Linked DNA regions of Homo sapiens. The protein of the gene in region 2 purifies or fractionates together with the protein of the main gene of each other region. This does not show direct contact. Each region holds a gene or a part of one and is shown on either strand. Other genes may lie near its edges.

Evidence for each region.
Region 1: the proteins of U2SURP (region 2) and DNAJC8 purify together in Homo sapiens (affinity purification with mass spectrometry; 2 studies listed by BioGRID and IntAct, with this or other methods). This does not show direct contact.
Region 3: the proteins of U2SURP (region 2) and CHERP purify together in Homo sapiens (affinity purification with mass spectrometry; 4 studies listed by BioGRID and IntAct, with this or other methods). This does not show direct contact.
Region 4: the proteins of U2SURP (region 2) and SF3A1 purify together in Homo sapiens (affinity purification with mass spectrometry; 4 studies listed by BioGRID and IntAct, with this or other methods). This does not show direct contact.

Annotation. Positions count from the first base shown.
Region 1 is NC_000001.11:28,229,754-28,237,358, forward strand, and holds the start of DNAJC8 (dnaJ homolog subfamily C member 8), read right to left. Parts: upstream 3,277-7,605; 5' UTR 3,246-3,276; coding exon 3,168-3,245; intron 500-3,167; exon of another isoform or gene 378-499; intron 1-377. Other genes in the region: ATP5IF1 (ATPase inhibitor, mitochondrial isoform 1 precursor), read left to right, coding at 6,431-6,517, 6,608-6,699. UniProt on the Homo sapiens protein: Suppresses polyglutamine (polyQ) aggregation of ATXN3 in neuronal cells.
Region 2 is NC_000003.12:143,053,426-143,060,921, forward strand, and holds the end of U2SURP (U2 snRNP-associated SURP motif-containing protein), read left to right. Parts: intron 1-250; coding exon 251-369; intron 370-1,517; coding exon 1,518-1,694; intron 1,695-2,886; coding exon 2,887-3,025; 3' UTR 3,026-7,300; downstream 7,301-7,496.
Region 3 is NC_000019.10:16,532,006-16,539,501, forward strand, and holds part of CHERP (calcium homeostasis endoplasmic reticulum protein), read right to left. Parts: intron 3,632-7,496; coding exon 3,447-3,631; intron 1,144-3,446; coding exon 1,006-1,143; intron 745-1,005; coding exon 593-744; intron 1-592. UniProt on the Homo sapiens protein: Involved in calcium homeostasis, growth and proliferation.
Region 4 is NC_000022.11:30,332,895-30,340,390, reverse strand, and holds part of SF3A1 (splicing factor 3A subunit 1), read left to right. Parts: intron 1-9; coding exon 10-195; intron 196-1,139; coding exon 1,140-1,261; intron 1,262-1,356; coding exon 1,357-1,602; intron 1,603-2,493; coding exon 2,494-2,701; intron 2,702-3,210; coding exon 3,211-3,365; intron 3,366-4,637; coding exon 4,638-4,739; intron 4,740-4,852; coding exon 4,853-4,924; intron 4,925-5,695; coding exon 5,696-5,797; 3' UTR 5,798-7,496. UniProt on the Homo sapiens protein: Component of the 17S U2 SnRNP complex of the spliceosome, a large ribonucleoprotein complex that removes introns from transcribed pre-mRNAs.

The DNA.
Region 1 (7,605 bases), on a different chromosome or scaffold from region 2:
ACACAGCGAGACTCCGTCTCAAAAAAGAAAAAAAAAAAGTAAGAGATTTCTCTGTGAGGAAAAAAAATAAAGAAAAAAATTTAAAGAGCAAAAAAAGGAAAAATACAATCACAGTAAGACATAAACTATGAGCAGCATTTAAAACTGTTGATGGGAAGGAACAAACAACTCCACCACCTAATTCTAATAGTGTTAGAAAAAATCCCTGACTTGGCCAGGCGGAGTAGCTGTCACCTGTAATCCCAACATTTTGGGAGGCTGAGGTGGGTGGATTGCTTGAGCTCAGGAGTTTGAGACAAGCCTGGGCAACATGGCGAAACCCCATCTCTATTTTTAATTTAAAAAAAAGAAAGAAAGAAAAAAGAAAAATCCCTGACCTGAAGACAATGCCAGGGAGAACAAGCACCAGGCAGTCCCAGGAAAACATTCTTGGTGTCACTGTCAGAGTTGGAATGCTAGTTGGAATGAATCTCTGGTATGCTATATGCCATCTTTATTCCTATAGCCAAAACAAGGTTGGAAAGAATTTCATTAACATAAAAAGTCATTCCTTCTAGACATCTTCCCTCTTCACTCTATGAAAACAGGATTTTTTTTCTCTCTTGTTCACTACCGTATCCTCAACACCTAAATAGCAAACTAGTACATTTCCAATGTTCAATAAACATCTGTTAAATGAATGAGGCCAGTGTGGTGGCTTATGCCTGTAATCCCAGCACTTTGGGAGTCTGAGGCAGGAGGATCACTTGGGTGCAGGAATTCAAGACCAACCTGAGCAACATGGCAAGACCTTGTCTCTATTTTTTAAAAAAATGACTGAATTACCCTTCCTTAGATATTTTTTCCCATCCAATTCAAACAAAGGTTGCCATTTGGTTTTTTGTTTGTTTTTGTTTTTTGAGAAGGGGTCTTGCTCTGTCACCCAGGGTGTACTGCAGTGACAGAAGACAGATCATGGCTCACTGCAACCTCCACCTCCTGGGCTCAAGTCATCCTCCAGTCCTCTTGCCTCAGCCTTCCGGGCAGCTGAGACTACAGGCAGTGCCTGCCAGGTGTCTAGACCTAAATGTAATACTTTGGAGAAACTACTATGTAACAAGTACTGTTACAATTGCAAGAAATAAAAGATGGATGTGATATGGTCCTTAACCCTGAATAGCTCACAGCCTGCTGGGGGGCAACTCCATTCCTCAAACCCATGCCACCCTACAGAGGTCCCATCTTCTGCCTTGTTTAACCCTGAGAAAGATGCTTCTGCTTTATTTTTTTATGAAACGCTTTCTTATACAATAACTTTAGTCCTCATGAAAATGTTTATTTTAAAATTAACTCTCTTGCCAAGCACAGTGGCTCATGCCTGTAATCCCAACACTTTGGGAGGCCAAGACGGGAGGATTGCTTGAGCCCAGGAGTTTAAGACCAGCCTGGGCAACACAACAAGACCCTGTCACAACAAAAAAAATACAAAAATCAGCCAGGCATGGTGGCCTGAGCTTGTAGTCCCAGCTACTGATGTGGGAGAATCACTTGAGCCCAGAAGGCAGAGGTTGTGCATTCCAGCTTGGGCAAGAGTGAGGCTCTGTCTCAAAATAAATAAATTAAATTAAATTAACTCTCTTGTTTTTACAGATGTGGAATATGAAGATCTGCAAAATTAATGTCTTGAACAAATTCAATCCCGGCCAGGCGTGGTGGCTCAAGCCTGTAATCCCAGCAACTTTGGGAGGCCGAGGCGGGAGGACCTTAAGTCAGGAGATCAAGACCAGTCTGGCCAACATGGTGAAACCCCCGTCTCTACCAAAAATACAAAAATTAGCCAGGCGTGGTGGCAGGCGCCTGTAATCCCAGCTACTCGGGAGGCTGAGGCGAGAGAATCACTTGAACCAGGGAGGCAGAGGTTGCAGTGGGCCAAGATCGTGCCACTGCACTCCAGGCCTGGGCAACAAGAGCAAAACTCCGCCTTAGGAAAAAAAAAAAGAATTCAATCCCAGTCCAGTCAGGTTAACTGTCTTCCAAGAATTTTTTTCTTTTTTAGACAGTCTCTCGCTCTGTCACCCAAGCTGGAGTGCAGTGGCGCGATCTCTGCTCACTGCAAGCTCTGCCTCCCGGGTTCACGCCATTCTCCTGCCTCAGCCTCCCGAGTGGCTGGGACTACAGGCGCCCACTACCAGGCCCAGCTAATTTTTTGTATTTCTAGTAGAGACGGGGTTTCACCGTGGTCTCGATCTCCTGACCTCGTGATCCGCCCGTCTCGGCCTCCCAAAGTGCTGGGATTACAGGCGTGAGCCACCGCGCCCAACCAAGAATTTTTTTTTCTATCCTTTTTTTCCTTCTTTTTAAAGAGACAGGGTCTCACTCTCGCCAAAAATGGAGTGCAGTGGTCCGATCATAGGTCACTGCAGCCTCGAGCTTTTGGGTTCCTCCCGCCTGGGCCTCCCAAAGTGCTGGGATTACAGATGTGAGCCACTGTGCCCAGCCCCTTGCAATAATTTAATCTGAGATTCTGACTCCAAACGGCATGCTTTTATTTCATTTATTCATTCATTCACTCAACAAATATTTACTGAGCATCCACTACATACTATGCGCTGGAGATGCGATAGTAAAGGAGGCTCAGAACAAGCCCACTGCTGTCCTAACATACCACCAAGCAAGCTGTAACCTACTGTAAGGCCCCAAACTATTTCACCTCCCTAAAGCTCAGGTTCGTCATCTGTAAAATGGGGGTAATATAATGCCTAACTGGCATGATACACAGTGCCTGGCGTTCGTGAATGGCAGAAACAACCACTAAAACAACTCATTACAAAGGACTAAGAAACGTCTCGGGGGCCAAGAAGGCTAAGTCACTCCCAGGAAGGGCCCAGCCTCTGCCAGCCCCCGACTCCGCGGACTTGGGGCACTCTGCCCGCGCGCCCGCACTATGTTGGACACACTCGCCACCTCCCTCGATAGATCGAACACCATTCCCTCTTTCGTTGCCCCGGGGGATCTCCCAGCAGCTATCAGTGGGAGACGCTCACACACCCCCAGACCCCCGCCACCCCGAAGACTGGACTGAAGGAATCGCCCAACGGTCCAGGCCAGGCGGCCACTGCCTTTGTCCACTGGGAAAGCAGATCCGGGAGCGGTCGCCCCGGTGCCACTACTCCTCACTCTGTGTTCACCTCACTGTAGAAGGTCATAAATGCTTCCTCGGTGCTGCCTCCGCCGCCTGAAGTCCCGCTCTCTCCTGAAGCCGCCATTTCCCCGGCCCAGCCACCACGTGACCCTTCTGCGCAGGCGTCGCCTCACGTGATTCTTACAGGTCCGCTCCTCTAGCCCCGCCTCCCGTCTGAGAGGTTCTTAAAGGGCTCGCAGCCCAGCCAGGCACTTTAAAAGTAGGTGGGCTTTTTAAAATTTAAACGAATTACACATAACATATAATTAACCACTTTAAAGTAAATAATGTGCTTAAGTTATTGTTAGGTAAAAAATAATAAGAAGAATAAAAGAAAAAGTGAATAATTCAGTGGGTTTATTTATTTATTTATTTTTGAGACAGGATCTCTGTCGTCCAGGCTGGAGTCGAGTGGTGCAATCACAGCTCACTGCAGCCTCGACCTCCCAAGCTCAAGCGATCCTCTCACTTCAGCCTCCCGAGTAGCTGGGACTGCAGGCGCGCGCCACCATGCCCGGCTAATTTTATGTACTTTTGTGGAGACGGGGTCTTGCCATGTTGCCCAGGCCTCCCAAAGTACAGGAATTACAGGCATGAGCCACCGCGCCGGACCGGCTCAGCTGTCTTCAGAACATTCACAATGTTCTGCAACCACCATGTCTACCTGGTTCCAAAATAGTTTCATCACCTCAAAAGGAGACTTAGTATCTACTTTTTTTTTTTAGACGGAGTCTCACTCTGTCACCCAGGCTGGAGTGCAGTGGCGCCTCCCCGGTTCCAGAAATTCTGCCTTAGCCTCCCGAGTAGCTGAGATTACAGACAAACGCCACCATGCCCCGCTAATTTTTATATTTTTAGTAAAGCCGGATGTTCACCATGTTGGCCAGGATGGTCTACGATCTCCTGACGTCGTAATCCGCTCGCCTTGGCCTCCCAAAGTGCGGGGATTACAGGCGTGAGCCACCGCGCCTGGCCGAGGAGACCTAGTACCTATTAAGCAGTTACTCCCTATTCGCCCCCTCTCCCCAGTCCCTGAAAACAAGCAATCTGTGTTCTATCTATATGGATTTACCTATTCTGGATATTTCACATAAATGGAGTTAAACAATATGTGAATACGTATTTCACATAAATGGAATTAAACAAAATACCAGGTAGGGCTGCTATTTTCTCAACTAAAATATAATCAATAAAGCCAGTTTTACTATTTCATAGAAAACAAAGAAGGTTTTGTTTTGTTTTGTTTTTTTGAGGCAGAGGCTTGCTCTGTTGCCCAGGCTGGAGTGCAGTGGCATGATCTTGGCTCACTGCAACCGCCGCCTCCCAGGTTCAAGCAATTCTCCTGCCTCAACCTCCTGAGTAGCTGAGATTACAGGCGCATGTCACCACGCCCGGCTGATTTTTGTATTTTTAGTAGAGACGGAGTTAGTCAGGCTGATCTCGAACTCCTGACCTCATGATCCATGCGCCTCGGCCTCCCGAAGTGCTGGGATTACAGGTGTGAGACACCACGCCCAGCCCCAAAGAAGGTATTTTTATAATCATCAATCAGGTAGATAATCTGGCCCAATTCTCTCATCTAAAAAAGAAGAAACAGAGAAGAGAAAATGAGTTAGAGAAGAGCTATAAACTTCATGAGAGTAAAGACTACTGTTGTCTTGTTCACATTCATTAGATGGATGAAGGGAGGTTAAGGTCAAGCTTTCCCTAGACTCCTACTTATCCTTTTTTTTTTTTTTTTTTTTTTTTTTTGAGACAGAGTTTCGCTCTTGTTACCCAGGCCGCAGTGCAATGGCGTGATCTCAGCTCACCGCAACCTCAGCCTCCCGGGTTCAAGCATTCTCCTGCCTCAGCCTCCCAAGTAGCTGGGATTACAGGCATGTGCCACCACGCCTAGCTAATTTATTTTTTATTTTTATTTATTTATTTTTGAGACAGTTTCTCTCTTGTTGACCAGGCTGGAGTGCAATGGCGTGATCTCAGCTCACTGCACCCCCTGCCTCTCAGGTTCAAGCGATTCTCCTGCCTCAGCCTCCCGAGTAGCTGGGATTACAGATATGCGCCACCATGCCCAGCTAATTTTTCATATTTTTTTTTTAGTAGAGATGGGGTTTCTCCATGTTGGTCAAGCTGGTCTCGAATTCCCAACCTCAGGTGATCTGCCCGCCTCGGCCTCCCAAAGTGCTGGGATTACAGGTGTGAGCCACCGCGCCTGGCCTGCTCTTTTCTACTGCATTGCACCACATTGCCAAAAGTGCAGTTATTAAGCCCATTCAACAATATGTTGCTAACGAAAAAAACAAACTAAAATATTTTTAAAAGGTTTATTCTGAGCCAAGATGAGTGACCATAGCTTGGGGAAACACAGCCTCAAGAGGTCCTAGGAAACTGTGCCTGAGGTGGTCAAGTTATAATTTGGGTTTTCTTTTTTTTTTTTTTGTTTTGAGACGGAGTCTCGCTTTGTCACCAGGCTGGAGTGCAGTTGCGCAATCTCGGCTCACTGCAACCTCCGCCTCCCGGGTTCAAGCCAATTCTCCTGTCTCAGCCTCCTGAGTAGCTGCGATTACAGTCGCGTGCCACCGCACCCGGCTGATTTTTGTATTTTTAGTAGAGACGGGGTTTCCCCATGTTGGCCAGGCTGGTCTCGAACTCCGGACCTCAGGTGATCCACCCACTTCGGCCTCCCAAAGTGTTGGGATTACAGGCGTGAGCCACCGCGCCCAGCCAGAACACTGACACTTCTCATAACAAATGAACGCGATTTATGTATATCTAAGCCAGGGCACATTGGACGTCGGTATCCTGGACATCAGCATCCTGGACACAGCTCCCAAACCCCGAATTCCCCCATTTTATTGATGCTAGCAGGCCAGGGAAGGGAAAACTTCCTTTGGGCTTTGAATAATAACGACTTTAGAATTGAAATCGTGGGCTGGAGGTGGACGCCACGCCTCATTCTGATGGGTCCAAGAGCCGAAATTTCGGCTTCTGGCACTCTCCTCACTCAGCTCTCTAAACTCCTCCATCATTCCTCTTTCCAGTCCTTTGGCCCTAAGCCCTTGCTAGCGGTTGGCTAAGAAGAAACCCGTCTCTTGCTCGGGATTCGCTGTGAGCTCCGGGAAGCCCGCCTCCGCTCTCCCGTGATTCGCTACTCCTGTGTTCATCCGCCCCTCCGTCGACCAGATTGGGTGCTTGGCCGTCCCTGCCATTAGCGCGTAACGAGAGACTGCTTGCTGCGGCAGAGACGCCAGAGGTGCAGCTCCAGCAGCAATGGCAGTGACGGCGTTGGCGGCGCGGACGTGGCTTGGCGTGTGGGGCGTGAGGACCATGCAAGCCCGAGGCTTCGGCTCGGATCAGGTACGCTGCGGCAGTGTCCGCTGCTCCAGCCCCGCGGGCGGATCCCATCTTTGCTTCCGTACCTTTACCAGTGTCCCTGTCTCTCTGCAGTCCGAGAATGTCGACCGGGGCGCGGGCTCCATCCGGGAAGCCGGTGGGGCCTTCGGAAAGAGAGAGCAGGCTGAAGAGGAACGATATTTCCGGTGAGGCTCACCGGGTCCCAAGTCCAGCCCTGGATCTCCCAATGGCCTTCCAATCCTTAAACTGCCAATCGCCCCACCCGTTCCTACCTGGTGCCTTGGGCGCCCCATCCCCCAACAGAACTCCCGGGCCCCAATCCAGTATACCCTAACCCTTGATGTCCCGACCGTTGCCACGTATAGGGCACTCCCAGTTACCTGCACAACAGTTTCAGGCCCCCAAACCGTTTCCACCGGCGGGTCTCCAAAACAACCCACGGCTCAACTCCTCCTTTATCATTACCATCTCCCGCGTGGAGTTCTCCTCAGGTCGTGCGAAACACCCCCAGATTCTTCGCACAGTGTCTAGATCCGACCGCCCAACGTTTGCCTCCCAGCCTGACTCCCTCGGCCCTTACCCACCTGTCACCCCCTCTACGCTCTCCTTCCTCGCCAGCACGCCTTAGCTTTGCAAGCCTGCATGCATTCAGGCTTCTCAGGTGTTTCTAGACCCCCGACTCCGCAAGAGTGAGGATGATGGGAGCTGGTCATGGGAGCTACTTATGGTTGGACACCATCTTCTAAAGGCTTTTGCCCTACTCAGCCCAACCTAGACCTGTAGATTTCCCTCTCCTGCTTAGGAGTATGGAGTGGGCTGGGCCTCCCTTTGCCAGCCTTGAGTTATCTTTAACTGACTTCTGTCCACTCTGGAGAGCAGTGAGGAATTAATCTTGCTTTTGCTTGTCCTTTGGCCTTTCACTTCTGCCTTCTGTTGAGAATTATCACCATGACACCTGCCATACCGTATAGAGAGCCAAGGTACAGCCGTTAGAGACTATCTAATTGAGCCCCTACATTTTGTAGTTAAGGAAAACTGAGGCCTAAATGTGACCAAACCAACATTGTAATCCAGTCCCTTCTTGGAACCTA
Region 2 (7,496 bases):
TATATTGTTTGGCCTGTGGTAAGCACTCAGTAAATGTATAGCTGCTGTTGCTAGGATTAGTTTTATTCAGTATAAGCAAAAGAAATGACTAGTTTCCCTGAAGGGGTAGATTTTTTTTTTTTTAATAGTATTGTACCTTAAGTAGTAATTTAAAAAATTATTTCCTGTAAGAGAAGATATTGTTCTATAAATGAGATTAACCCACATTGATATTTTTAAACAACTTAATATTTTCTATAAAAAATAACAGGAGAAAGAGAAAGAGTTAGAAAGAGAACGAGAAAGAGACAAGAAAGATAAAGAAAAATTGGAATCTCGCTCCAAAGACAAGAAGGAAAAAGATGAGTGTACTCCGACAAGGAAGGAAAGGTATAACATTTCTCATATTTAATTGCATATACTGGTTTCAAGATTTGCAGTGGTGTTTTATAATACTTTCATCATTGATGCCCGCAAACTGGAAGTGTTTGTTCATGATAAACTTGTTTGGGTCCTGCTTGCAGAAGGCAGAAATAGCGGAGAAATGGGGCATTTAGTTGGCACTTGACTTAGTTAACCAGGGCATCATCCCTTCACATGGTTTATATGGTATCCTTAGCCTTAGTTCAGTGCAAGGATTCAATTACAGTATTAGATATCAAACCTGAGGTTTAAGTAACAAAACAACTTGCTAGATTTTCCTTGTTGCATCCAATTTAAGCATATTTTCCAGTATCTGTGCTGAGGCTGCTACTTGTAAACTTGAGTCTTAGTCTTATCTTGAAAGGAGGTTGTATACATAGGCCAAAGCTCACCTTAAGTCTTCATTCTAATCAAAAGCATTTCTCTTTCAGTTTTTATGTCTTACTCTCACGGTTCCTAAATCTCTGATTGAGTAAAGAAAATTGTTTCCCTTAACTGAACTGAGGTTTTCCTAATAAAAAGACCAAGCCATTGCAAATAAAAGTCTAGCTTAGTCACGCTACAGATAGTTACAAATAACAAGTTATGCCAATTGGTTAAAAGTCTGTCACTTTTTTGACTTTTATTACTATTTTGACATAGTTTTAGATTTATAGGAAAGTTGCAAGAATAGTATAATTGATAGTTACCCTTCACCCACATTACCCAAATGTTAAAGTATTTCTACTTTTGCTTTATTCTTCCTCTTCTGTCCCACCTCCAACCATTTAAGAATAATTTGCCAACATGATGCCCCATTCTCTTAACCACATTCAACATTTTAAAAAACTGATATTTAATCCAGAGACCTTAATTAGATTTTGCCAGTTGTTTCAATAACCTCTTATTGCAAAGAGAAAATCCAATTTAGTTGAATTCAGTTGTTGTCTCTTGACAACCTATCTTTAACACTTATTTGTTCTTGTTACAAAGGACTTTGAGTATTGTTAAAAGTAACATTACATGGTTAGAATAAAAGAGTAAGCTGGTAGCAATTAATAGCTAATTTAGTAAAGGAAAATGAATACCCGATCCTTTGCTCATTTATGGAATGTTTTGGGGGCTTTGTTCCATAGGAAGAGGCGACACAGTACATCCCCCAGCCCATCTCGCAGTAGCAGTGGTAGACGAGTGAAATCCCCATCACCAAAATCGGAGCGATCAGAGCGTTCAGAAAGATCTCATAAAGAGAGCTCACGGTCCAGGTCATCTCACAAAGATTCTCCTAGAGATGTTAGCAAAAAAGCCAAAAGGTAAATGCAAGTCATTTTTGCTAATATTTCAGATACCAGTTTCCTTGTCATTTCATCAGCTTTTGAAAATAATTTGGTTGGCATACATTTTTTTTTTTTTTTAAGGATTTTAGAAAACCAAAGAGATACACTTTCATTTTTGGTTATTCCTCCCCACCTCCTCATCCCAATCTCTTTCATGACTGAAGTGAAGGCTTCCAACAAGTGAGGACCAGCCAAGAATTTTAAACATCATATCCAATGTTTTCTGTGGAATAGGGTTAGCTGCTTTACTTTTCGTTCTGTTCTTTAGTTTCTATAGAATATTATTTGATTTTTGTCAAAGCTGAAAGAAACACACATTTTTCCCCCATAGCAATATTATTAGCAAGTTCTTGGGTAGATATTTTTGGAAATACATATCATGAATACCATTTTTTCAGTATGTATTTTAGTATTTTGTATACTTTTTTTTCCTTTAGTTCCAGAAAAATGGTTCAGAAATGTTTTATTTATCTGGTGATACATAGAGGAATTTTCCTGAGAGCTAAAACTGCTTTGTATGCTAATACTTTATTATTGTAACTATTTTTAGTAAAATCTTTACAGAATAGATACCTTTCTCCTTTTCTAAATGGCACCTGTATATATATGTATGTATGTGTTATATATGTATGTATATGTACATGTATCTTTATTGGTTTAAGTAATCCTTCATGAACAGCACTTACAAAATTATGTCTTAAATGATGCCCTTGAATGATACTGCAGTAGTTGTTTGCTTCAGGATGATAAACTTCAAAGCTGCTGTGTTTTTTAAATTTTGTGCATGATCTTAGGTGCAACTTTGAACTTTATCTTGTAGATTAAAGGTTCAAATTTGGGGGTTATCAGTCACTTATGGAGCTTGTTAAAAATGCAAATTCTTAGTTCCATCCTCCAGAGATTTTGATTCAGTAGAGCAGTGATAAGGCACAGAAATCTGTCTTTATAAACAAGCGCTCTACTGATGATCATTGATGCAGTGCATAGTAAGTACAAAATAATCTGTGTGTGTGTGTGTACAATAGAGTTTAAATTTTAGAAGTTCATAGTCTTATTGCAGTGATTTTTCACTGTGCCCTGTTAAAGATCATTTTCGATCGTTTAAGGATAAACAGTTTTGATCACATGAGTACTTTATCAATTGGGATTTTTTTGTTTGTTTCCTTAGATCACCATCTGGTTCAAGGACACCTAAAAGGTCTAGGCGATCACGGTCTAGATCTCCTAAAAAATCAGGAAAGAAGTCCAGATCCCAGTCCAGATCTCCACACAGGTCTCATAAAAAGTCAAAGAAAAACAAACACTGACGTAAATTTTTAAGATGCTGTCACTTATTGGAAATGCGATTTGTTTTGTGCCTGAACGGTCTGTTTTTTAAAAAAACAAAAAATCAAATGAAAGAGCATTCCTGGGGTTTTTTGTTTGTTTGTGTATGCATGTGTAAACTCATGAGCAACTGCATCTGTAGATCTGTCATTGTTTTATATTGTGTAAATTACTTTCATTGTGGCTATTTCTCAAGATGAAATTTTTATTGTTCTAATGGATTTCATCAGAAATGTGTATAATGGATCTGCTGACAGTAGTAGTATTTTGTTTTAGGATGTTGTGACTTAGCAAAAATAATACAGATGTCTTCCCCCCTTTTGTAGCTTTGACAATTTGAATTAGATTTCAAATAAAATCTGAACAGAAAACTATAATGTTGTTTTTTTGCCCCACCGGTGATATTAAGTCCCTTAAAGTCCTACTGAGTTTCACACTACTGTTGTGCTTCTTATACCTGATGCACTTTATAAGCCCCAGTGTTCAAGTAGCTTAAGTTTTATATTTACTAAGATGACTATCCAAATTAAGGGACCTGAGACTCCTATTTGGTGGTTTGCTAACCATTTGCTTTTGATAAGTTTCTCTTGGGTAATACTAATACCCAGATATCAAAGACTAGGTAGATATGGCATGGCGTTTTGTTAGTGGAATGCCTGGCTAAAACATTTTTTTCACAGAAGCAATATGATTTCCATACATCCAACCCATGTTCTGAGCAACTACTTACTTTTAGGGGGAAATTAAATATCTTTTCATTTCCTCTTCTATTATGAAAGAAGTTTATTTGTAAAACAAATTTTCTAACAAGGTTTGGCCATAGAATTCTCTTGTATGATCGTTGACCTTTTATAATCTTCTGTAGGCTATCTTTCAAACACTGGCATCAGAATATTTTTTATAAGTTTGTGTTTAAACAGCTTAGTTGGTCCCCCCCCACTCCCAAGAGACTTGGGTTTAGTTATAGCTTTAAGTAAAATTTAAAAATAAAATGTTTTTCAGGAAACTTCGTATCTAATGGTTTGTAAATTCAAGGTGCAAAAAGTTGATTTAAACCATTTGCAGAGTTGAACTCTATTATGAAAATAAATTTGCTACGGTATGAGGAAGAAATAAAACTTGTGTAATGTTGGTCATAATACTGCTATAAATATAATAAAGGGTTATGTAGAATTGAACTGACACTATTATTTGTGAATCTTGATTTCAGTTTTTTATGTAGGCACTTCATACACTGGTTTGATGGGTTTTTTTTTTCCTCCCTAAAAGAGAAAGTAGAAAACTATTCTAACAATGGATTATTTTGATTTAGCTTGCTTTTTAAAAAAATCTTTTCAACTTGTTTTACTTAATCTTGCCTAGTCACAAAATAAGATGTGCACCCATGGTTTGGAGAGTTCCTATATTAGCTGAGCAGTGAGATACACTATTTCCAAACGGTGCACACCTACAGTAGCTTTGGAAATGAGCCAATCACTGTTTTACTTAATGGTTCTTATCAGCATGCAAATATTGCTTGAAAGTTATTTCCTTATTCACTGTTTTGTTAGTCCATTTTGTTAGGAAACATTAATTCCTAAAAATTTGTTCAGAATAATTAAAAGTGAACATTTGGTGCTGATACTCAAAAACCTACAAATGTAGCCATTTAAAAAGTAACATGTTTTTCTCCCCTGCTCATTGCCTGGGAGAATGGAATTTTATATAACTACCTTTCTTTGCAAAAATAACGGTCGTGTCGAGTTGGTGGTGATTTTGGCATTCCATCTTGCACTGGTTTCTAGTATAGGCTTAGAAATAATTGGTCAGGTAATAATCTTTCCAGTCAAGTTGCAAGGGATGCTTATTTCTCTTCAAAAAAAGACATCCTGCGGGATTGAGTAGAAAATTTTAGGTCAGTTTTGGGTGCTTATTTGTAATATTTTTCCTACTACATTGGAGTTTAGCAGTTCTTTTTTTCTGGATCCAGATACAAGTGTCATGGTTTATCTTACAGTGGGTGAAACTGACTTTCTTTTGGTTGGGTGGGTGAGGATTTCTTAGGCCTGATAGAATATATATTCTGTGAAGTTTGTTAATGTACATATTAGATTGTATTGGATTTTTTTTTCTTGAATTGCAAATGGTATTATTAGATAGGTTATTTCCAGTTTTACTTCATGACAAATTACCTAGAGTAAACCTACTTAATACTCCCATGGATTCTATGAAAGTTTAATGGGATCAGAAATTGGTGACTTATAAGGGGGAAGATATTCTACCATATTTTTATAATAGCTTATTATTCATGTTTCTTGTCTGAAGGACACTCAAGTTACAGAGCAAAATTTCTATAGGTTGACTAGAATGTTCATAAGCATGGTCTTCCAGTTGCAGGAAAGATCATGTTCTATCTGTGGACACTTACTGTCCTCTACCACAGCTACGTGCCAGAGTTGTTTTCCACAGTTCTTATAAAGGGCATGACTTAGGCTCTTTACCCTCCAACTTAATGTTTATACACAGGGATTGTTTACTAGGTTAATGACATTTAACTCCCCTCTCTTCTGTAGGTGAGAGAAAATAAGTAAGTCTTGATCTGTTTCTTACCAAAGAGAGACAGACCTATGATGGAAAATGATCACGTCTCTGAATTTTTTCTTTAACGTTATAGTTCCTTATTACAGATAGTAAGCATATGGGAATTTCTGAGCTATAACATGTTGAGAAGTTAGAAATTAAAACTAACACAACAAAAGGCGCTGAATCAAAAGATCTTTGCTTTTATTTGGCTCAGAATGTTTTTGGCTTTTCTGCTAAAGATGGCAGAAATTACTCTACACAGACCTGATTTTTCTTTATTGCAGACCATTCTTGTGGGCTTACCCTGAGACTTTTATCCCAATTAGTGAATCTTGGAGGGAATACTTGCTTATTTATGACTTAGGTATTTCCCCCCAAACTTTAATATTCTTGAGCACTTGAAAATACTTTTGAGAAATTTTAACTGTGATTAAATTTAGGTTTATTAGAAATATTCTGTACACATTTGCCTCCATGGTGGCGTAAGTTCTGAAAAATTATATGACCGTGACAATAGTTTATCATCATCATTATTGTTATTCAAAATAAGGGTAAATAAATCTCTGTATTGCCAAAGTGACTTAAACTGTTCTGATGACCACACAGTGTGATTTCTTTAGCAGAGAAAGTTGGTTTTAAAAATAAATAGTACCACTTTTCTAAGACTGTACAGTTTACAAATAAGGTTTTTTTCTTTGTTGTTTTCCTCTTCTATTAAGTTTTAGTGAAAAGCCTAATTACAGAAAATTGTGCAGATACTAGTGAAGATACTAGTATAAGTTTAAAGGAACACGTGACTGTAAAATCTCACATTTACAAAGTGCTTGATCTCTTCATATTTCACACGCATGTTTTAGAATAGATTTTAGGGAGTGTTTAATTCATTATCCTTTTGACTTAAAATTTTTGTTACCAACTTCCTAGGACTTAGATAATATATAAATAAGTACAAATCCCAGGGGAAGTGTTGTGATGCTAGACTAAAAGGTGGGAATGTGCTGCTGTTCCGTGAGCCTTGTTCCATTGTTGAAAATTTGATGCCTCAGTGTTTATTCAGTACCACCTCATGGAGCTTCAATGTAAATGGATTATATGTATAATTGGTAATTTGTATAGTTTTGTAGATTGTAGATTAAATGCACTCATCATGTCACATGTAATTGTGCTTGGAGTATTTGTGTTTTATTCTTTTACTTCAACGGGTTCTTGTCTGTTACATCTCTGGTGATTTGAAATATCAGGAAAGACAGTTTGTCAGAAATGAGAATAATATAGTTGAAATCAGTTGGGCTAAAATATTCTACAGCAAGACAATTTCTTTTGGGTGAACTGATTCTATAATTTACTTACTTTTAATGTAAGGATTAGATTTATTGTTGAGCTGCTTTCCAGATCAGACTGTCACTTTATAGTTTTTCTACATAAAGATTATATAGTTGCAAACAAAGGTTGTGAAATTTCCCTTTTGTTGTTTTTGACTTTTAATTAATAAAAGTACATTGTTTTCATAGCAAACTTAGACTGTCCATGTAATTTTCTCCATATTGTTTTTCCGATGCAAGCCCAGTTAATAATTAGTTTTTTAGCAGCTTTCTCTCAAGTGAAATAAGTGATGTGACATGTTTATCAGTTATGGCTAAAATGTTACACTTTACATGTTTAAACTATAATCATATGTTTTCATGCTAGATGGTTCTCTTGGTTAGGAAAGTTCATTTCCTTATTGGTTTCCTTTTTTAAAAGTTATTTTATTCTGTTTAATTGAGGAAAATTTTAAACATTCTACAAAAGTAAAATAGTACAGTGAACCTTACATACCATAAACATGCAGATAACAACTTACATGTATCTCTAAATACTTTGTTTTTAAAACATACCTGCAGTGTCATT
Region 3 (7,496 bases), on a different chromosome or scaffold from region 2:
AGTGACCCTGTAGAAGGAAATACCCACCCAACCTTGGGGAGGGTGGAGACAGCAACAGTGGGAAGGGTGAGGGCTGGGTGGGGACAGAGGGTCGGCAGATGTGGCTCTGTTGAAGCCTGAGAGATGGGTCAGGGCTGGAGAAGGGGATCCCAAAGGAGGGTCCTGATGGCTGAGCAAAGTCAGGTGACCGCGTGTGTGTGCGTGCAAATCAGTGACGAGGGCAGGAGACAGACACAGAGGCCAAGGAGGCCGTGGCTGAGAAGGCAACAAGGAGACGCCAAGAAGCTGCCCCATGAGAGGAAGGAGTGCAGGGGACAGTGGCCCCCAGGAGACAGCAATGTGACAGGTGAGGCCGGGGTCTAGGGGAGAGGACAGGGCATGCAGCGAAGGTGCACAGGACACCTAGACCTCGCAGTCCTGGAGACAGAAGCCTGGTGGCTCACAGAGACCCCCCACCCGGGGTCCCCGGACAAGTGCCCCCTAGTCTCGGGACAGGCCAAGCCAAGCTACCGACCGGAGCAAGCGGCCACCCAGGAGGGTTGAGGAGGAGCGCGAGGAAGTGGCGCTCTGGGCACGGGGTGGCGGCGCTCACCAGTGGTGCAGCACGTCATTGATCAGGTAGATGAGGTGCAGCCGCAGCTCGAAGTGTGCCCCATCAGCCGTGATGCGGTTCCGGAGGTGGCCGGCCATCAGCTCACAGTGCGGCGGGGACTTGGCATTGCTGAACATCCAGTTCTTCCCGGCCTGCAACAACCGAGCCAATGACGAGTGAGCAGGGCCGCGGCTCCCCCAGGCACCCACTGCATCCCTGAGAGCGCGTCACCATCAGCTCAGGGAAGGACACACCATGAGCGTGGGGGGCACAGGGTCCCACAGCCTCAGGAGCTCCAGGCGGGAGGGAAGGGCACCCATTGTAACAGCCCTTAGCCCAGATTGGCTACGACAGGCCCTGCCTCAGGGAGGGACCAAGGGAAAGCTGGGCTCTGGGAAGTGCTGGCCCCTCACCGAGATGGCGTCCTTGGTGCACGTGTCGATGATGGGCTGCAGGAGGTTGTCAAACTCGTTCATGTCTAGCTGGGTCTCCTCCAGAAGCTTCTGCATCTGCTGCTCCACCGCGTGGGCCACGGCCGCTGTCACTTGCTCCTGCGGGCGGGGGTCGGTGGGGTCGAGAACACATGAGGAGGGACCCGCAGCCTGAGCCCTCCGGCCTGGCTCAGCAGGGGCGGGGTGGGGACATGGTGGCGATGCCCGGACTCTGGGCTGCTCTGGCCATCAGCTCCCTTGCTTGTCCCCAGCAGGAGGAGATTCTGTCTCTCATGCCTGCCGTGAATCTGTGACAGTCCCTCCTGGAGTGGGCAGGGCACTGACAGGACATACCAGGAGACAACACCTGCCCTCCAGGTAACCAAGGAAAACACTGCAGCCCAGAGGAACAAACAACCTCTGCAAACCAACTCAACAAAAAACAAAGGCGGGGCGCGGTGGCTCATGCCTGTAATCCCAGCACTTTGGGAGGCTGAGGCGGGAGGATCGCTTGAGCCCAGGAGCTCCAGACCACCTGGGCAACGTAGCGAAACCTCATCTCTACAAAAAATAAAATACAAATTAGTTGAGCATGGTAGTGTGTGCCTGTGTTCCCAACTACTTGGGAGGCTGAGGCGGAAGGATTGCTGGAACCCAGGAGTTCAAAGTTAAACAGTGAGCTGTGACTGTACCACTGCACTCCAGCCTGAGTGACACAGCAAGACCTTGTCTCTAACAACAACAAAACAACAACAACAACAACAACAAAAAGAAAAGAAAAGAAAAAAAAAGACAAATGAGGCATGGTGTGAACGACAGGCAATAGAAGAAGAGGATACACCCATGGCCTCTAGTGAAGCAAGAAGGGGGCAATCTCATTCCTCAAGAGGAAACACCGGTTAAAGTGCGACTGGTAAAAACAGAGCTGCCATGCGGACCAGCGGTCAGTTACGGCTGGTCAAGGCAGGCCTCCCACTCCATGATGAACAGAAGCTGAGGGTGAGCATTCTGGAACTTTCTTTTCTTTTCTTTTTTTTTTTTTTGAGATGGAATCTCGCTCTGTCGCCCAGGCTGAAGTGCAATGGCATAATCTCAGCTCACTGCAACCGCCACTTCCCGGGTTCAAGCAATTCTGCCTCAGTCTCCCGCGTAGCTGGGACTACAGACACCTGTCACTGCACCCAGCTAATTTTTGTATTTTTTACTAGAGACAGGGTTTCACCATATTGGCCATGCTGGTCTCAAACTCCTGACCCTGTGATCCGCCTGCCTTGGCCTCCCAGAGTGCTGGGATTATAGGCTGAGCCACTGTGCCCAGCTGGAATTTTCTGAGAGCAATATGACAGTGTGATTTTATGCCCTGAACCTAGTACTGAGCGTGGGGTTGGTGTTTTGGAGGTTTGGTATTCTATTCCTCTCATTTTTCTGGCAATGCACTTGTAGTATTTTATTTATTTATTTTTTCTGAGACTGAGTCTTGCTCAGTCACCCAGGCTGGAGTGCAGTGGTGCAATCTCAGCTCATGCAACCTTTTCCTCCCAGGTTGAAGCAATTCTCCTGCCTCAGCCTCCCAAGTAGCTGGGATTACAGGCGTGCACCACCACGCCCAGCTAATTTTTGTATTTTTCATAGAGACAGGGTTTCATCATGTTGACCAGGCTAGCCTCGAACTCCTGACCTCATGATCTGCCCATCTCAGCCTCCCAAAGTGCTGGGATTACAGGTGTGAGCCACCACACCCAGCCAATGCACCTGTATTCTATTTGGCGAAAGTTATCAAACTGTTGGACCAGGAAGGACAAAAGGGTCCTTCTGGCCAGGTGGATCACCTGAGGTCAGGAATTTGAGACCAGCCTGGCCAACCTGGTGAAACTCCATCTCTACTACAAATAGAAAAATTAGCCGGGTGTGGTGGTGCATGCCTGTAATCTCAGCTACTCCAGAGGCTGAGGCAGGAGAATCGTTTGAACTCGGGAGGTAGGGGCTGCAGTGAGCTGAGATCACGCCTCTGCACTCCAGCCTGGGCGACAGAACAAGACTTAAAAAAAAAAAAGGGTCCTTCCCCAACCAACAGCTCCAGGTGACCTAGCTACTGTGTGGTGGGGCCAATGGTAGGCACCAGAGGCTGCCTGGCCACAGCCATTAGGGAGCTTCAAGGTGCATACGTGCCCCACAGTCCCACTCAGGGGGGTCCACCCCAGGGTGATGGGTGCACGCACGTCCAGTGGCTTCACTGAGATGAGAAGCAGCCTCTGTGTCTGGCATCAGGGCTGGGGGTGACAGTGGCTGACATGCACCGAGCCCTGGGTGGCAGGGGGGGCCCTGTCCTCACTGACACCTGTTATTCATTCTGATGAGCAGACGCAAAAACAGAGGCACAGGGGAGCTGCTGGTGTCTGGCCGAGGAGGCGGCGGGCCCATACCTGTCTGAGCGCCAGCAAGTGCTGCTCCTGCTGCTGGAGGTTCCACTGGCTCTGCTGGATGAGCTCGTCCATGGATGGCGCGCCCTGGGCCGGCGGGATGGGCGCGGCGGGGGCCAGCGGGGGCTGTGGCAGGGGTGGCATGGTGGCGGCTGGCTCCAGCTCCGGGGTCTGCTGCTTGCAGATGACTGGAGGGAGAGGAGGAGGGGTGCCCCATGAGAATGCAGATGGGGGTCTAGGTGTCCCCTTGGCCACCTCTCAGCCACAGGGGCCTCCCCCTCCCCAGGGACTCACCATCCACGAGGGCCTGTTCATAGCCTCATGCCCACGCAAACCAGCTCCTCCTAGTCTCGGGTCCTGCCCTCCCTCTCACAGGATCCCAGCCTCAGCATTCCATCTTCGGGCCGTCCCCTCCTCGGAGAACCTAGGAAGTCCCCTGGCCGCTCTCTCGCCAGCACCATCCAGTCCTTGCGCAGTGTCCTTCCGGTGCAAGCTAAGCTTGCCTGCCCACCTCCTCACCCACCTAGGCCCCACCTGATGCAGAACCCAGGCCTCAGTACCTCTCATCCTCCGACCTCCTCGGCCACTCCCTGACCTCTGCCACTTAAGCTACCCATTGACTGTTAAGATGTCACAGCCACCGGGCCTCTGCACATCTGGCCAGAAAGGCACGAAGCCGCACCCCCGAGCGCACACTGCGGCCTCCCCCACACCTGCCTTGTCCTTCTACTGACTCTCCTTGCTTCTCCAGCCCTTGGGGACAGAGACCCCTCTGCATTCAGGGGTGCATCCAGTTTGAGGCAGCAGTGAGACACCCATTCTGCCGGCAGAAGCCTGGGTCAGGGTGGGCGCAGGTCCCAACTCTGGCCAGATGGGGCAGGTGGTGAGGTCTCTGAGGAAGGGACCCGGCTCATAAGGAGGCCCTGGACAAGATGACCTGCCTCTCTCTCCGTCTTGGGGCCGCCTGGTCTAAATGTGACCAGGTACCCCTGGAGCCCTCCAGAGCCCCACTCCAAGGGGACCAGGACAAAGCCAAAGATAAGGGAGGTGGGGTGTCAGGTGGAAGGTGTCGCCCCTCACTGGGCGCTCAAGTCAAGTCTCGGGGCTGACTGTGCCCTCCAGTTTGTGCACCCAAAGCCACCCTACAGGATGACCCCCAACTTCTGCACTGAATCCCACCCCTCCCACTGTCTGAGGGACACTGCTTATTGATATTTCTTCTATCTCTTATTTCTCCAACTCCTCCCTCTTTACCCGTCCCTCCCCAGCAGCATCTAAACACATTGGGCTGGGCATGATGGCTCACGCCTATAATCCCAGCACTTTGGGAGGACAAGGCGGGTGATCACCTGAGGTCAGGAGTTCGAGACCAGCCTGGCCAACATGGCCCTGTCTCTACTGAAAATGCAAAAAATTAGTCGGGCGTGGTGGCGGGCACCTGTAATCCCAGCTACCTGAGAGGCTGAGGCAGGAGAATTGCTTGAGCTTGCAAGGTGGAGGTTGCAGTGAGCCGAGATGGCGCCACTGCACTCCAGTGTGGGTGACAGAGTGAGACTCCATCTCAAAAAATAAAAAAGGAAATAAATAAACACATCAGAATATTCTGGGTTGGAAACTTCTCCCTTTACCCCATGATCCCTCTCTAAACGATTTCTCAGACAAGACTCACTCCAGATCTTCACCTCCCCTTTATCTCAGCCTGGTGCCTGCTTGCCACTCCCCGCACCCCCCTCCTTCCCCCAGGCAGCTGAGGACACCCTCACTCAACTCAGCCCCCCGGGCCTGTCGCAGGTGCTTGCCTCCCTTGGCCTCCATGTGTTCGCCCCCTCAGTCCCTTTCTCCCCCTTTACCAACCCCTCTCCCGTTGGACCCTCACATGCTGGGGTGCGCGGCCTGTGTTCTGAGCCCTGTCCTCCGCTCTACGCAACCGCCGGGCAACATGAGCTACTCATTCCTGTGGCTGCGATTGTGCATGGTGTGATTCCTAAATCCATCATCTCCATTCTGGATTCCTGAGCTTTGGCCCTAACCACCAACTGCACGGCCCACTGTGTTTCCAAGGGGCCTGTGTTTCCTCTCACCCCCTACACCTATGTCCCCTCCTGTGCTCCCCGCACCATGGTTGGCACCACCATCTGCCCAGAAACCCAGGCCAGAAGTAGCATGTGCCTCCCAGTGACGAGCCACATAGTGTCAAGGCGGCCTCCGAGACATCACTCCAATCAGTCTATGTCCCCGCTGTCACCACCATGGATCTGCTGTCACCTGCGTCACCCCAGAACCGGTCTTCCTGCATCAGGTCCCATCCCTCTACCTCTTTTTGACATGGCAGTCATGGTATTGCCACTTATGGAGTGGTCCCTGGGCTACCCAGCGGTGACAGACGGTTATGGAACCAGAAAGGGAGCATTTCAAAACCTTTCTAGCAGCGTGATGGTTCACGGTCCACATTGTTACTGTGCTTTGCAGAAGTTTTGGTCCACACACAACAGGTTAGAAACTTAAAACACAACACCAGAAATGGTCCTTCACCACAGAGTTCGTGAAGCTCCATTCTACAACAGTTGAGGCCCAGGCTTTAAGGCGTGGGGTGCAGAACTGGCTGTACTGTGGCTAACCCAGCTTCACAACACAGACCTAAACCTTCCACGAGTCTCTCCCACGCTTCCAGGATACACTCCTCACTCCTCTCCAAGCCAGGTCCCCGACTCCTCCCCAAGCCAGGCCTCCAACTCCTCCCCAAGCCAGGCTCCCAATTCTGCACCCCCACCTCTGGCCACTCCAAGAACCCCTCCTACTCTGGGCTTCAGCCACCCTAAGCTCTGGGTTCCCCATTCCCTCCAAGGGCTCCTTCCTCTGCCCGGAACACTTTTCTCCCCTTGTTTTCACCTGGCCAACTCCAACACACCCTTTACATCTAGCCAAGATATCATCACCCACAGAAAGCACTTCTTGGCTGGGTACGATGGCTCACGCCTGTAATCCCAGCACTTTGGGAAGCCAAGGTGGGCGGATCATGAGTTCAAGAGATCAAGACCATCCTGGCCAACATGGTGAAACCACATCTCTACTAAAAATACAAAAATTAGCTGGGTGTGGTGGCGCACGCCTGTAGTCCCAGCTACTTGGGAGGCTGAGGCAGGAGAATCGCTTGAATCTGGGAGGCAGAGGTTGCAGTGAGCCAAGATCTTGCCACTGTACTCCAGCCTGGGCAACAAGAGCAAGACTCCATCTCCAAAAAAAAAAGAAAGCACTTCTTGGCTTCAATCTTCCTGGGCTATAAGCATAAGCACCCTCTCCTTCCTCATAATGGCACCAGCTTCCAAGTGGCCACCCCCCCGCCCCAGAAAGGGAAAGCAGCCCTTAGCTCAGTCACCCAAGCCAAAGCACCGTCTGAGGTGTCTTCCTCCCCTGCTCATTACACCATCAGGTCGTCAATATGCAACTGGCGCCCAAGTTCATGGATTCTACCCCTTCACCCCACCTGCCCCCCATGCTCCCTCCCTCAGGCTCAACCTACTGACTTAATTCAGACCCCACCATCTCTCACCTAAACAACTGCCCTGTTTGCTCCCCTGCAGGCCTCACTGCTCCCCAGGCTGGTCCCTGTAGCTTGTCCTACACCACCGGCCACACAACCCAAGCCACCCTCTCCCTTGTTTAAAACTCTTGTGGCTTCCCGCTGCCTTTAGAAACGGTTTTTTTTTTTTTTTTTTTGAGACGGAGTCTCGCTCTGTCGCCCAGGCTGGAGTGCAGTGGTGCGATCTCGGCTCACTGCAAGCTCTGCCTCCCAGGTTCACGCCATTCTCCTGCCTCAGCCTCCCAAGTAGCTGGGACTACAGGCGCCCGCTACCACGCCTGGCTAATTTTTTGTATTTTTAGTAGAGACGGGGTTTCACCGTGTTAGCCAGGATGGTCTCGATCTCCTGACCTCGTGATCCGCCCGCCTCGGCCTCCCAAAGTGCTGGGATTACAGGCGTGAGCCACCGCGCCCGGCCTAGCAACGGTTTTAAACTTGGTGTGCTGGGGCTAAGGAAGGATCGCTCTAGAAAC
Region 4 (7,496 bases), on a different chromosome or scaffold from region 2:
TCCTTTTAGCCTCCAAGCCCTTGCCTCCAGCCCCTGCTCCAGATGAGTATCTTGTGTCCCCCATTACTGGGGAGAAGATCCCCGCCAGCAAAATGCAGGAACACATGCGCATTGGACTTCTTGACCCTCGCTGGCTGGAGCAGCGGGATCGCTCCATCCGTGAGAAGCAGAGCGATGATGAGGTGTACGCACCAGGTGAGGTGGGGGTTCCAGGAGAGCCCATGGTAGTCTCCGAATTACAGCCATCTTCTTCTAAGCAAACATAGAAAGCAACAATTGAGGTCAACAAAAGCTTTTGAGGAGAGTTGCACTCTATGATATTGCAAGAGAACTCCCCACTTTCCAGAAGAACTCCCCATAGAAATTCCCCAAAGGCAGACACTGAAGGAGATGCCATGTGCCTGTTGACATCCCAGAGCAAGCTCTGGCTTTAGCTGGAAGGGCTTCCTGTGGCTGTTTAGAAGGAGAGCATTGATGGCTGGAGTACCATGAGCTCTTTGGAATGGGGCAGGAACTGTGCCACAGGTGGGAGACTGGGCTTCTAGTTTTGACTCTGCCACTTACACCATGTGGCCCTTTCCACACAGTTGCCCTCTCTAACTCACCATCTTATTTATTTATGTGTTTTATTTATGAATGACGGAGTTTCACTCTGTCTCCCAGGCTGGAGTGCAGTGGCTCCATGTTGGCTACTGCAACTTCCGCCTCTCACGTTCAAGCAGTTCTTCTGCCTCAGCCTCCCAAGTAGCTGGGATTACAGGCACGCACCACCACACCCGGCTAATTTTTGTATTTTCAGTAGAGACGGGGTTTCGCTATGTTGGCCATGCTGGTCTCGAACTCCTGACCTCAGATGTGATCCTCCTGCCTTGGCCCCCCAAAGTGCTGGGATTACAAGCATGAGCCACTGTGCCTGGCCTACCGTTCTTTTCTAAGTCAGAGGGGTTGCCCAAGCACTGGGTTTATAGGCTTAGATCGGGCAGCTTTCCCCGAGCCCAGAGGACAAGAGTTGGGGCCCTGAGTCACCCTCATCCCATGGAACCAGCCTCCTCCCTGCACACCAGAAAAGCTGCTCTCTTGTCAGGACACCTGGTTTATTTTCTCTTTCTATCCTCTGCCTCTGTTTTGTGACTGTACAGGTCTGGATATTGAGAGCAGCTTGAAGCAGTTGGCTGAGCGGCGTACTGACATCTTCGGTGTAGAGGAAACAGCCATTGGTAAGAAGATCGGTGAGGAGGAGATCCAGAAGCCAGAGGAAAAGGTGCGGCTAAAGTGGAACCTAGTGCCTTCTCTGCCCCCCGTCTTCCATACTTGGTCTTAGTTCCAGAAGCATTGTGGCTTTGCTTTCACTTGCAGGTGACCTGGGATGGCCACTCAGGCAGCATGGCCCGGACCCAGCAGGCTGCCCAGGCCAACATCACCCTCCAGGAGCAGATTGAGGCCATTCACAAGGCCAAAGGCCTGGTGCCAGAGGATGACACTAAAGAGAAGATTGGCCCCAGCAAGCCCAATGAAATCCCTCAACAGCCACCGCCACCATCTTCAGCCACCAACATCCCCAGCTCGGCTCCACCCATCACTTCAGTGCCCCGACCACCCACAGTAAGCCAGCATCTACCCTGGAACTGACTTTTTTAGAGCTTCATTCTTGAGGTCGGACACTGTTGGCTGAGAAGTGCAGCTGCCTTTTAGTGGGGCCTGAGTGTTGGGTGGGTCAGTTTGAAAGAGAAAGAGCCCTTTAAATGCAAGTGGGAACCTCTCTCTTGATCTGTTTGTGGAGGAGGGTTGGAACAGGGAGGGAGGTAAGTGGCAAATATGAGAAACCAGTTGGCGTCAGAGAAGGGCTGCAGGGCTTATTGGGTCTTTGAGGACTGTTGGCTTGTCTCCAGGAGAGACTTAGTCGAGGTCTCGGCCTCTTTTTTTTTTTTTTTTGAGATGAAGTTTTGCTCTTGTCGCCCAGGCTGGAGTGCAATGGCATGATCTTGGCTCACCGCAACCTCCGCCTCCCGAGTTCAAGTGATTCTCGTGCCTCAGCCTCCCAAGTAGCTGGGATTACAGGGATGCGCCACCATGCCCAGCTAATTTTGTATTTTTAGTAGAGATGAGGTTTCTCCGTGTTGGTCAGGCTGGTCTCGAACTCCCGACCTCCGGTGATCTGCCTGCCTTAGCTTCCCAAAGTGCTGAGATTACAGGCATGAGCCACTGTGCCTGGCCAAGGTCTCAGCCTCTTTAGTGACTCTTTCAGTGTTTGCCAAAGTAGCAGGTCGAGTTTGACCCGCCAAGTCCCAAGTAGAGAGAGTGTCATCCTCGGGCTCTCAGCAGCTCAGTTCCTATTGGACGCCCAGTGTAGGCCACAGTTTCTCAGTCCCAGGGGGCCAGGACGTAGTTGTCTAACCTCCATCCTCAGAGCTGCAGGCAGCCAGTTGCCAACTGTGTGTGACCTTGGAGTCCAACTTTGGCTTCCTGTAATCTGTGGGTCTCTTTCCTGCACAGATGCCACCTCCAGTTCGTACTACAGTTGTCTCCGCAGTACCCGTCATGCCCCGGCCCCCAATGGCATCTGTGGTCCGGCTGCCCCCAGGCTCAGTGATCGCCCCCATGCCGCCCATCATCCACGCGCCCAGAATCAACGTGGTGCCCATGCCTCCCTCGGCCCCTCCTATTATGGCCCCCCGCCCACCCCCCATGATTGTGCCAACAGGTCAGTATCTCTTGCATCATTTTCCAGGCCATTAGTTCAGGGACCACGGGCCAAGTACTGTCAGCAGAGCAGTGGCTGATGCTAGTGCCAGCTGTTCCAGCAGGGTATCCAGCCCAGAGGAGAGCCCTGGCTTCCCATTGAAAGATCCGCAACCCTAGAGCTGGGAGCCACCGTTCCTGGTAGAAATGAGAGGCTGAAATGGTGTAGCCAGTGTCTGTGCATTCAGGGATCAGGTCCCCAACAGGCTCAGAGGCCTGAGAAATGCTTGTTGCTTGGCACTAGCTCCATCCATCAGTCCTGCCCCTCCTGCAGTCCTCTGCTGTCCAATCTGGGCAGCCTCCCAGGTCCCCTTGCCAGGGAACCTGCTGGCTGCCAGACTTAGCAGGGAACAGCACTTGACACCTCTGACTAGAGGAAACCTTTGCAACCTTCCCTCTCAACTTCTCATCAGCCCTGAGTCCTGGGCCCCTTCTGCCCTCTCATGGGGCTGCTTATTCTTGTCTTTGCAGCCTTTGTGCCTGCTCCACCTGTGGCACCTGTCCCAGCTCCAGCCCCAATGCCCCCTGTGCATCCCCCACCTCCCATGGAAGATGAGCCCACCTCCAAAAAACTGAAGACAGAGGACAGCCTCATGCCAGAGGAGGAGTTCCTGCGCAGAAACAAGGTATGTAATCCCAGAATGCTGCTGAAGTTTCTAGCTGGAGGGTTCAGTCCCGCCCCTGTCGTACACTTGCGAAACTGACCCTATTTCACTCCCAGTCTTGGCTTCTGGGGCCTAGGTCAGCTGTTGGAGGCATCTAAGGGCTTCTGAGCACACAGTGAATGTGGGGCCAACAATTGGAGGAGCAGAGAGCATTGGTGGTGATGGTGATGGTAGTGGTGGCAGAGGTGGTGACTGTGGTGGTCCCTCTGGTGTAGACTTACAGAGGCCAACAGGGAGACCCAGCAGCACGGGCAGCACAACTCACGTGTGAGAGGGACCCTAGACACCTGGAGGAAATTGTGTGTGGTGTTTTAAAATTTACTGTGGCCTTCCTCCCCAGCTCTAGCCCTTAGGAGGTCTGCCTGTTGGGTGGGATCCTGTTGGGGTCCTGGAATAAGGGGAGGTGGGGACCTTGTCACTGCTAATCACTAGGGAAGCTGTCAGGCTGCAGTAAGGAGACAGAAACAGCCCCGGCCTCTGCTCCCCCAATGTATTTGACCAAATTGTTTCGTTTTGTTTTTGCAACCTCTGCCTCCCGGGTTCAAGTGATTGTTATGCCTCAACCTCCGGAGTAGCTGGGATTACAGGTGTGCACCACACACCCAGCTAATTTTTGTATTTTTAGTATTTTAGTAGAGATGGGGTTTCGCCACGTTGGCCAGGCTTGTCTTGAACTCCTGGCCGTAAGTGATCCACCACGCTGGCCTCCCAAAGTGCTGGGATTACAGGTGTGAGCCACTGCACCCGCTCTGTTTGTTTTTTAATAATAGTTCCCATTTCTTAAACGCTTAAGTACCAGGATAGAGCTAAGCACTTTACAGACACTTCCCCTCAATACTCAAAACAGTCATGAACCCTGTCTGGTGGATAATGACATTGAGGCTCAGACAAACCTTGTTAGCTGGGAAGCTGAGTTGGGAATCCAGGTCTTCCGACCCTGCAGGTCATATTCTTTTCCCTTGGGGTGTGCAGAGTATTTTCACTAAAGTTCTTCAGTTTAGCTCCAGACTCACCAAGAGACAAGATAGAGATTGTTTTAAAGAAAAGAAACCTAATCTTGCAAAGGGGGGTGACTTGTACAACCTCACAAGGGGTTATCAGTGGTGAATCAGGCCAGAATCCAGGAGCCCAGATGCACAGGTGACATTGTCTGGACAGGCCTAGGGATAGCAGAGCATAGTTCTTGATTGGCTCCGAGCTCCCTAGGCATAATGACCACCTCCTGTTTTGTAGGGTCCAGTGTCCATCAAAGTCCAGGTGCCCAACATGCAGGATAAGACGGAATGGAAACTGAATGGGCAGGTGCTGGTCTTCACCCTCCCACTCACGGACCAGGTATGGGTACTGCCAGAAACTGGCATCAGGTGCATGGGAACCAAGCATTCAGGGGAAAGCTTCCTCTAGCTGGCCTTACCAAGGAGTTGAATGACCGCTGCTTGATCCCACAGGTCTCTGTCATTAAGGTGAAGATTCATGAAGCCACAGGCATGCCTGCAGGGAAACAGAAGCTACAGTATGAGGTGAGTCAGTTTGTCCACAGACCTGTCCCTTGGGTCCTGACACCTCTGCTTTCACAGAAGCTAAATCTGTCATGGAAGCTAAAAGGGGAGTGGAGTGATATCTGGGTGTGGCCATCTGAATCCATCCTAGAAGTCATGATGCTGGCTGGGAGTGTTGGGGCAGGTGTGCCCAACAATGCAAGGCTCTGGTGGGGTCACAGTAGAGTCTTGTGTGGGATCTGTAAGATTCTTTGCCTCAATGACTGGGCATAGAGATTTAGTGACAAGACTTAGGCATGCTCTGGTGGGTTCCTGATCCAGTGGTTGGGCCATCCCTGCCAGTATGACCTCAGGCAGCCTGACTTGGAGGTGATAGTCTAGCCCCGCCTGATGCCAGGTCACATGGAGGCATTAATGTTCTTCTTCTCTGAACTTGAACAAATCCCTGCTCTGGGCCTCAGTTATCTCTATCCATTGAGGCTGTTGGGCTAAGTGATCCCTAAAGGTCTTGTGATTTCAGAGTCAGAGCTCCATGGAGTTGGTGAGGGGCCAACTTTTTGGGGAGTTGAGCTTTTGAGTCAAATGTTGACAAAGGGGAGGAGCGTAATTGGTGGGAAGAAAGGAAACAGTGGGAGGAATGAGAGGCCTCCAGTCCCCAACACCCTACCTTCTCACAAGCTCCTGTATTTGCTAAGTCCAGAGCGCAAACAGACCAAGTGCACAGTTGTAAGGTTGCAGCGGTATCCCCAAGGCTGGGTTGCCCCATGCTAAGGCACGCTGTCTGTTTTCCAGGGTATCTTCATCAAAGATTCCAACTCACTGGCTTACTACAACATGGCCAATGGCGCAGTCATCCACCTGGCCCTCAAGGAGAGAGGCGGGAGGAAGAAGTAGACAAGAGGAACCTGCTGTCAAGTCCCTGCCATTTTGCCTCTCCTGTCTCCCACCCCCTGCCCCAGACCCAGGAGCCCCCCTGAGGCTTTGCCTTGCCTGCATATTTGTTTCGCTCTTACTCAGTTTGGGAATTCAAATTGTCCTGCAGAGGTTCATTCCCCTGACCCTTTCCCCACATTGGTAAGAGTAGCTGGGTTTTCTAAGCCACTCTCTGGAATCTCTTTGTGTTAGGGTCTCGATTTGAGGACATTCATTTCTTCAGCAGCCCATTAGCAACTGAGAGCCCAGGGATGTCCTACAGGATAGTTTCATAGTGACAGGTGGCACTTGGCTAATAGAATATGGCTGATATTGTCATTAATCATTTTGTACCTTGACATGGGTTGTCTAATAAAACTCGGACCCTTCTTGTGAAATCAGTTAAATAAGACTTGTCTCGGTCACCTGTGCCCTGTCCAGACTCGAGGCAGTGGTAACACTGCACAGTGCTATGTGGCTTCTCTTTGAGGATTTTTGGGTTTTGTAACTAAATTCTTGCTGCCCTCATACTTTTTATGTATTAGAATCATATTCGTATTGCCCTTTTAAAACATTGGGATCCTCCAAAGGCCTGCCCCATGTATTTAACAGTAATACAGGAAGCATGGCAGGCACCATGCAAACCAAGGATGGATGGTGCAGTCCCTGTGTCAGTGGGCGGTGGTTTCCTGCTGGCCTGGAATCACTCATCACCTGATTGATTGGCTCTGTGGTCCTGGGCAGGTGCCTCATAGGTGTGTGGATATGATGACGTTTCTTTAAAATGTATGTATTTAACAAATACTTAATTGTATTAAGGTCATGTACCAAGGATTTGATAAAGTTTAAATAATTTACTCTCTACTTTTATCCATTTTATCCATTTTAACTCATGTAATCCTCATGTGAGTATTCCTGTTTAACACTTGAGTAAACTGAGGCACAGAGAACATAAGTTGCATGCCATAGTCACACACTGTGAAAGTGAAAAGAGAATGTGTGCAAAACACGTCACAGTCCTGGTTTCTGAGTAAAGGCAGGCTGTTATCTTTAGAATCAAGCTATCACAGGGAGATAGGCAATGCTGTGGGTGTTGGAGGAAGGTGAGAGCCTGTTGCTAACAATTTCCTGGTTTTAAAGCTAAGGCTGATTTTATTGGGAAGATCTCACATGTGTGTGGCCCCTGAGAGTTCCCAGTGCCTTTTATTTGCAGTCCTTCCATTTGGACCTCCTAGCTGCCCCATCAGGTCATCTCCAGGGCTCAGAGGGGTGAGACCATTTCCCAAGGTCACAGAACCAGCTCTCTAGTCACCACCCTGCCTCTCCCTCTCACCCAGAGTCAGTACCAGTTTTATGGCTTTATTACAAACTGCTGGGTCCCTCCCATTTTCAACTTGATTGATGGGATGTCATCCCTTATCCTGTCTGACATTTGCCTCTGGCCTGGTTGCTAGAAGTTTGCCCCAGGGGCAAGAGTTGAAATTTGGCTTCCTGAGGTGGGCTTTGTGGTTTGCGTCCCTAAAGTGAGCCCACTACTGGTTGCTTGTCCATGGCCAACACCAGAAATCCCCTGAGCACTACCTGGGTCTCATTCCAAGAAGGAAGAGGGTCAGGAGACCTGGGGAGTCTCATATTCCAAGTTCTTCTTTCTTTCTGGGAGCAGTGGGCAGTTCATGGTGTT